Linked DNA regions of Homo sapiens. The protein of the gene in region 1 purifies or fractionates together with the protein of each later gene. This does not show direct contact. Each region holds a gene or a part of one and is shown on either strand. Other genes may lie near its edges. The genes, in order: TMIGD1 and ACAA2.

Region 1 (3,827 bases):
AAAAATAAAATAAAATAAAATAAAATAAAAAGCCAGCTAAGGAAACTAAGGCCCGGACTAGGGGCTCAAATCATAGGTGCAGCTGAGAATAAAACACTAATTCCCAAGCTTCTAACCTAGTGCTTAAGTGCTTATTCCACGAAACTTTTTTTTTTTTTGAGACAGGGTCTCACTCTGTCACCTACACTGGAGTGCAGTGGCACAATCTCAGCTCACTATAACCTCTGCCTCCCAGGCTCAAGTGATCTGCCTGCCTCAGCCTTCCAAGTAGCTGGGACTACAGGCGTGCACCACCAGGCCGAGCTGATTTTTGTATTTTTTGTAGAGACGGGGTTTTGCTATGTTGCCCAGGCTGATGGAACCCTCTTAAGGGAGACATGGCAGAAATGCCAACAATGTGATTTGATGACTTAAAGAAATTGTTTTCAGTTTTCTAGCCTCAATCCACTGTTTAAATTCTGTTTATAACAATCTCCTAAATATCATTGTTGCTAAGTGTGTGTGTGTGTGTGTGTGTGTGTGTGTGTGTATAGTTAATTGCTCAGTAATCCATAATGACAGTACTGACACAAAGTCATCAACCAATAAATCAAAATGAGCTCATAAAATGTGACAAGGATATTATGTACCCTTCAAAGGCAGGACCATTATTGTTATAAATAGCAGAATCAAGAACTAAATGGAAGCTTGATAATACACTGTTTGGGGGAGAATGTGGAGAAACAGGTCCTCTCATACCTCGTTGCTGAAAGTTTAAATTGAGAACACCTCTTTCAAAATACTTATCAAAATTTAAAGTGTGCATATCTTACGACACACCATTTCTCCTTCTAGATGTTAACGTTGGAGAAATACATGTACAGGATCATAAAGAGATATGTACAAGGATGTTTATTGTAGCATTGTTTAACATTTTAAAATGAAAACAACCTAAAGCCCATCAAAACACAAATGATTAAAGGCATACATTATACTATAGCATTCTAAAAGCAATAAGCTAGATCTCTGTGGTTCAATATAAACATATCTCAAAAACATGCAAGTTACTGAGAGAAAGGAAGTATTTTATGTAAAACCTTCCCATGTCCCTAAAATAATATGATATATTTCCTATGGGTACACTATATGTATAGAAAACTATTTAAGAAAAAAGAAAGATAGGGAAGGATTTACACCAAACTCATAACAGTGGGTATCTCTGGGGATCAGGAAGTGACCAGCTTGGATCTTAGCTTTATCTAAAATGTACTAATTTTTACAGAGGGGATATTCACATATACTGATATGCTTAAATTAATTTCAAATAGTTAAATAGAAAGAAATCACTAACAGAATCTGTCCACAAATGGAATTGTTCCATTTGGCAATTATGTTCTCTATTCCAGCAGCTTCCTTCCTATCTGAATACCATATAACATCCTTGTTGGATATGATACAGAATTCGAGCTCATTCCAAAGAGCAACAAAATGTCATTCTTCTGAGAGAGTTATTAATAACACAGCCTACTCAGGGTCTAATTATTCAGTGTGCAGATTATACAAGCTCCTTTTTCCTCCTTCTCCGTCTCTATCTTTTTCCTAGTTCCCACTCTCCAACCATTTCATTACTATTCTGCACTTCTGCCAGAATATGCACAGTGATAGATGTGTTGACTGTCTATGGGTCTACAACTGCCCTTATTGTAGAGGAAAAAAGGAGTTGCTCACACACAGGGATGAGAGGGACTCACTTGCCTTCCACAGATGCCAGAGTTCTCATGCTTAGAACACCTTCTGGGAGGAGGACATTATTTCTAGAGCACCACTGAGAAAACGCAAAGATGCATTGGTGAATATGTTACCAAGGCAATGGTTCGATAAAATGCAAAAACAGACGGTGAGAGTAACCCTCAAAACCACCACCACCGTAATAATAATAGCGGCTAGCACTGTGGCAAATTCTTTACAGGGATTATTTTATTTAATCTTTACAGCATCTCAGGAGATGTATGATTATCCCATTTTTTTTTTACATGAGAAACAGAGGCCTTAGCAGTTAGTTAACTGTCTCAAAGTCACAGTAAACGGTGTAGATGGAATTAGATCTAATTGCAATGTATGTCTTCTTAATTTTGTACTGTTTTGTGCAACACTAGCACAGGTTGGTTTATTAATTCTCAGAGAAGAAAGACTCAAGGCTTATACTCTTGGGTAGTGTTACAAATTGTCTGCTTGTCATAGATCATTACTATATATATCATGCTCATAATCATATATTGTTTCATGGTTTGTCTTCTTCATCACATTAAAAGTTCTATGAGATTTGGAACTGGAAGTGTTATTTGCCCTTGTTACCCCAGTGCTTGTCACACCGTACGTATTTAATAAATTTTTGTCAAATGAATAAATGACCACATGAGATAGATTGAAGGAAGACTTTGAACTCTGACAGTGAACTATTGCTTATCTGCTAATTAAATCTAAATGCTTGAGTCTTGCAGTTCCTCCTCTCCTAAGTGGAAACGACTTCCAAACAGTTGAGGAAGGCAGTAATGTGAAGTTGGTTTGCAATGTGAAAGCCAACCCCCAGGCTCAAATGATGTGGTACAAAAACAGTAGTCTCCTCGATTTAGAGAAAAGCCGTCACCAAATCCAACAGACAAGTGAGTCTTTTCAGCTGTCAATCACCAAAGTCGAGAAGCCTGACAACGGAACCTACAGTTGTATTGCAAAGTCATCTCTGAAAACGGAGAGCTTGGACTTTCACCTGATTGTTAAAGGTAATGCTCTTTTTAAGTAATACCCAGCACAGTGCAAAACTCACACCAGATGCTCAGTGAATATTTCTGGTGACAATAAATGATAATAACGGTTATGATTAGGGCCAGGATTTTCTTTGGAGAATCATCCCCATCCAAGGATTTTTCCACTAAGAATCCTAGTCCATCCTTTCAGGGAAATCATGCCCATTCCATACAGGACACTGTTTTTTGAGCAAGAATCCTTTCTTAGAACCAAATATAGGAAACAATCCTGCTTGGCTTTTAGGGAAGAGTATTTCCATGAATTCTCCTGGGCAACAATGTGTGTAGCAACTGGACTTTTGAGTTCACAGCTTCATAACTAACAGAAGTAAAAAACACACAGAGAAGAGAAATTAGGACTAGATAAGAAAATGGATCCCTACAATCACTCCTAACTCAAATTCTAACCTGTAGGGTAATCAGCAGAGAGAGTAGGAAAAAATAAGGGGACAAAAAAGCCCTTTCTCTTGGATTCATGCTTCATCTACCCAGGGTTATCACCTCTACAATGACAGAACAAATGATGCTCTGTGGGGTTTTCCCTCCTCATATTTCTTGCTCATACAAAAAGAGAAAGGCAAAATACCTGGGGTAGCAGATGCCAAAAATGCTCATTCACACATGGTCTGCTCTCATGCTAGCACACCAGGAGCAGCCCAACAAGCTGAGACTCCCATATCTTGTTAGAACATTACTCACTTTGTCATTTGCCTCCCTGTACTCACTTATTGCCAGTCTTGTCAGTCACCAGGAAGCCAGCTGAACCCCTGCCAGAAGTGTTGTGGTGATGTAACCATAGGACATCTTATTTGCTTCCCCTTGAGGGGAAGAGTTATGGGATATGAAAAGAGTGGCTAGTGGGGAAGAAGACTTACTGGTGGTTGAATGCCCATCACTGTGATTCCTGGAATGATCAGTAATTCGTCCTGCGGAGCACTAACAATTGCTCAGGGGCTACTTGTTTTAAAAACCAAACCCACAAATATCCTGAATACCCATGAGATAGAAGCAGTGAAAAAGCTTTGTGGTTATTTACCTCCCCCA
Region 2 (3,827 bases), on another chromosome or scaffold:
GAAAAAGCATTGCAAAACTTTCTGCTCTGTAAGCTAATGCATGTAGCCCCCAGTCACGTTCCCCACACTTGCTTGATCTATCACCATCCTTTCAGGTGGACCCCTTAGAGTTGTAAGCCCTTAAAAGGGCCAAGAATTTCTTTTTGAGGGAGCTCGGCTCTTAAGACGCAAGTTGGTGGATGCTCCAAGCCAAATAAAGCCTCTTCCTTCTTTAATCCAGTGTCTGAGGAGTTTTGACTGTGGCTCGTCCTGCTACACTGTGATGTAAAGCCATTCTGGTTAGACAACTTTCTTGTTCTCTGATGCTTCACAATGCTAGAAACATATGTTGAGAACTAAAATCCTTCTTCTATGTGCTGGAGTATATTGCCTAGTATTAGAATAAAAGAATCTCCAAACTAGAAGGTGCCTTAGGGTTGTCTGAGGTCAACCACTCACTCTATAAGAACTACCTCTAAAAATTCCTGACAAAAGGTTCTCTCTAAACCTCTGCCAGGAAACTTTCAGTAAGAGGGCATACTCTACTGCATGAAACAGTGTGCTGGTCATGGACAACATAAACTAATGATATTGCTTTTTTTTTTTTTTTTTTGGAGACAGAGTTTTGCTCTTGTCGCCCAGGCTGGAGCGCAGTGGCGCGATTTCGGCTCACTGCAACCTCCGCCTCCCGGGTTCAAGTGATTCTCCTGCCTCAGCCTCCCGAGTAGCTGGGACTACAGACACCCACCACCAGGCCCGGCTAATTTTTGTATTTTTAGTAGAGACGGGGTTTCACCATGTTGGCCAGGCTGGTCTTGAACTCCTGACCTCAGGGGATCCACCCACCTCAGCCTCCCAAAGTGCTAGAATTACAGGCGTGAGTCACCCACTCCCGGCCCCAACGAATGATATTTCTTTATATTGAACTAACTCAGCTTACAAAGTCTTCCATCCACCAATTCTAGTTCTCTCCAAAAGCACCAACACAGATAGAGATGTAGTTTCTAGAATATATGCTGCTACCGGTTCTAGAGTCACAGGATGACTCAAGTTACAGACTTCAAATAAATAACCTGAACTATTATCTTTTACTCTTAGAAAAAAAATGGGCAAAACAGGTTACCTTCTACATGTGTATCCCCCACCTCCAGTATCTGAAGTCAGCTAACCTGTAAGTCCCCAAACCTAGTGACTCTCATCTCAGGTAAATTAAAGGCATTCTTTCAATAGTTTTTTATTTGACATTAATTCTGACTGCTTTCCTCTAAAGACACTGTAGTTTGCCAACATCCTATTAAAATGTGTCCCTTAGAATATAAGAATATAACAAAAATAGCATGCATTTTATCTAATCACAAAGAATAGAGGAATTATCTATACATCTACTAATACAAACTAAGACTATAAATTTGCAGCATCACTATTAGTTAAATCGGTGTCCTTGTACAAATAAATAAAAATCACCCCTTCCCAATCACCTACTACCATCTGCCAAAAAAAAACTTGTGACTATACAAATATATGATTATGATGTGAGTGGTACCCACTCATCATCATTAGAGCTGTACAGTGCAAAACCGGCATATCAGTAAGCAGCATCAGTTATAGCCATTTCATCATATTGACATTCATTAGGTGTCTACTAAATACTAGACATTTTATCACTTTCCACACAAAAGCTAATCTTCCCAGCAACTCTGCAAGGTAAATATTATAGCTAACATAGAGGGGACACTTACTATGGAATAGACTTCATGCTAGCACTTTGCATATACTAACTTTATTCTCTCCAAGACAATCTAAGCTCACATTTCCACATCTTGTCAAGAAATTATGGGACTTTCGGCAATGGGTTTGTGATAAGATACTGATCTACAAATGAGACTATTCAAGCATTATACCACTACTGGTATCTAAGTATAATCTTCCAGTTTATGATCTCTTTCATCAAACAAACCAAGCCTAGCCTAAAATATTTCTATTTCAACCTCTCTTTTCATTCCTATTTTGAGAAATTTGCAGTTTAAAGGAATATTAGGAGCAATATATATAACTATAATTTAGAACAGATCCACTCAGTTTTTTACAGATACAAATTCAGATAGTTACAAAAGGCCATAAATACTAGTCGAGTGCATTACAAACGTTTTGTTCTGGTAAATTGGTTATTCTGTACCATGATGCCTTCCTGAATCTTTTCAAGTTTCCTTTCATCCTCCTTCCTTAACAGTCTCTGCCTATTTTTATATCAGTGTTTTCTTTTTTTTTTGAGACAGTCTTGCTCTGTGCCCAGGCTAGAGTGCAGTGATGTGATCACAGCTCCCTGCAGCCTCGACCTCTGCAGCCTCGACTTTCCCAACTCAAGTGATCCCCCTGCCTCAGCCTCCCAAGTAGGTAGGACTACAGGCATGTGCCACCACACCTGGCTAATTTTTACCTTTTTTTCTTTTTTTTTTTTGTAGAGATGGGGTCTTGCTATGTTTCCCAGGCTGGTCTCGAACTCCTGGGCTCAAGCAATCCTCCCACCTTGGCCTCCCAAACTGCTAGGATTATAGGCATGAGCTACTGCACCTGGCCTATCAGTGGTTGCTTTATTTCATTCTTCTTTCCTCTTTCCATGCCTTCTTCCTAATTTCATTAGTTCTGCTTCTGGTCATGGCCTACTATGCTCCTATCTGACCAACCCTCCAACAGATAACAATGAAAAACTCCAGACAATATATAAGAACAACTACTACCTGACGGTCTTGGAAATGAACAAAACTAGACAGGTAAGGAGAAGAGTTGATACTTAGAGGAAGGGAACAGAACAGGGTAAGTGTCCAATTTATTTATAGCAACTAACTTGAAGACTAACAGTCCATGATGCATGGAATGGCTAGAACTCAGAAACAGTCTTACTGGCTTGAAGAATCAGAGAATAAAATTCATGGTAAGCACAGCCACTAGAAAGTGAATGAGAATCTGGGAAAGAGGAGCACCATAGAGCGAGATTCCAAATTTCACATATAAACTCTGCCCAAATATTTGGCTGACTCCTTAGCCATTCATGTGTAGGTCAGACCACAAGCACCTAAGCCAAGCCTTAAAAAACTGAACTTAGATTTAAGCTGCTGCCCACTACAAGGGGAGACATAGTTTATCACGGGGGTGCATGGGGGTGATTTTGTAGGCAAAGTAACTGTCTACAAAAAATAAATAGCCAACCAATCAATAAGTCAGTTCTGTCTGCAGGATTATAACAGAATCCAGTCTCCACAATGTTCCATCTGCAATATTCATAATATAATTCAAAGTTAATCCACATATGAGGAAACAAAAAATATGACAATCAACAGAGACCAATCCCAAGAAGACCCAGACACTGAAATTAGCAGACAAGGATTTTAAAATAGCATTCTATTACAACTATGCTCAAGGATGTAGAGGAAAATATGCTCCTAATAAAACATAGGACATCTCAGTAAAGAAATACATACTATAAAAATCCAAAATGGAAATTCCAAAACTGGAAAATACCTGAAATAAAAAATTCCCTGGATGGGCTTAACAGCAAAATAGAAATGAAAGGAGAAAAATTCAGCGACTTTGAAGATAGATAAATAGAAATTAACCAATCTGAAGAACAGATGAAAAAAAAAAGATTAAAAAACAAAGCCAGAACCTCAAGGTCTGACAAAGGAGGAAAGGCAATTCACTGGAAAAAGGATCGTCTTTCCAACAAACAGTGCTGGAACAACAAAACATCTATATACCAAACAAAATGAATCCAGGCAAAAATGCGTCAACTTTGATAGTGGGCTGGGCACTGTGGCTCAAGCCTATAATCTCAGCTACTCAAGAGGCTG

What was found.
Region 2: the proteins of TMIGD1 (region 1) and ACAA2 purify together in Homo sapiens (co-immunoprecipitation; one study listed by IntAct). This does not show direct contact.

The regions. Positions count from the first base shown.
Region 1 is NC_000017.11:30,323,748-30,327,574, reverse strand, and holds part of TMIGD1 (transmembrane and immunoglobulin domain-containing protein 1 isoform 1 precursor), read left to right. Parts: intron 1-2,480; coding exon 2,481-2,759; intron 2,760-3,827. UniProt on the Homo sapiens protein: May control cell-cell adhesion, cell migration and proliferation, cell morphology, and protects renal epithelial cells from oxidative cell injury to promote cell survival.
Region 2 is NC_000018.10:49,803,335-49,807,161, forward strand, and holds part of ACAA2 (3-ketoacyl-CoA thiolase, mitochondrial), read right to left. Parts: intron 1-3,827. UniProt on the Homo sapiens protein: In the production of energy from fats, this is one of the enzymes that catalyzes the last step of the mitochondrial beta-oxidation pathway, an aerobic process breaking down fatty acids into acetyl-CoA.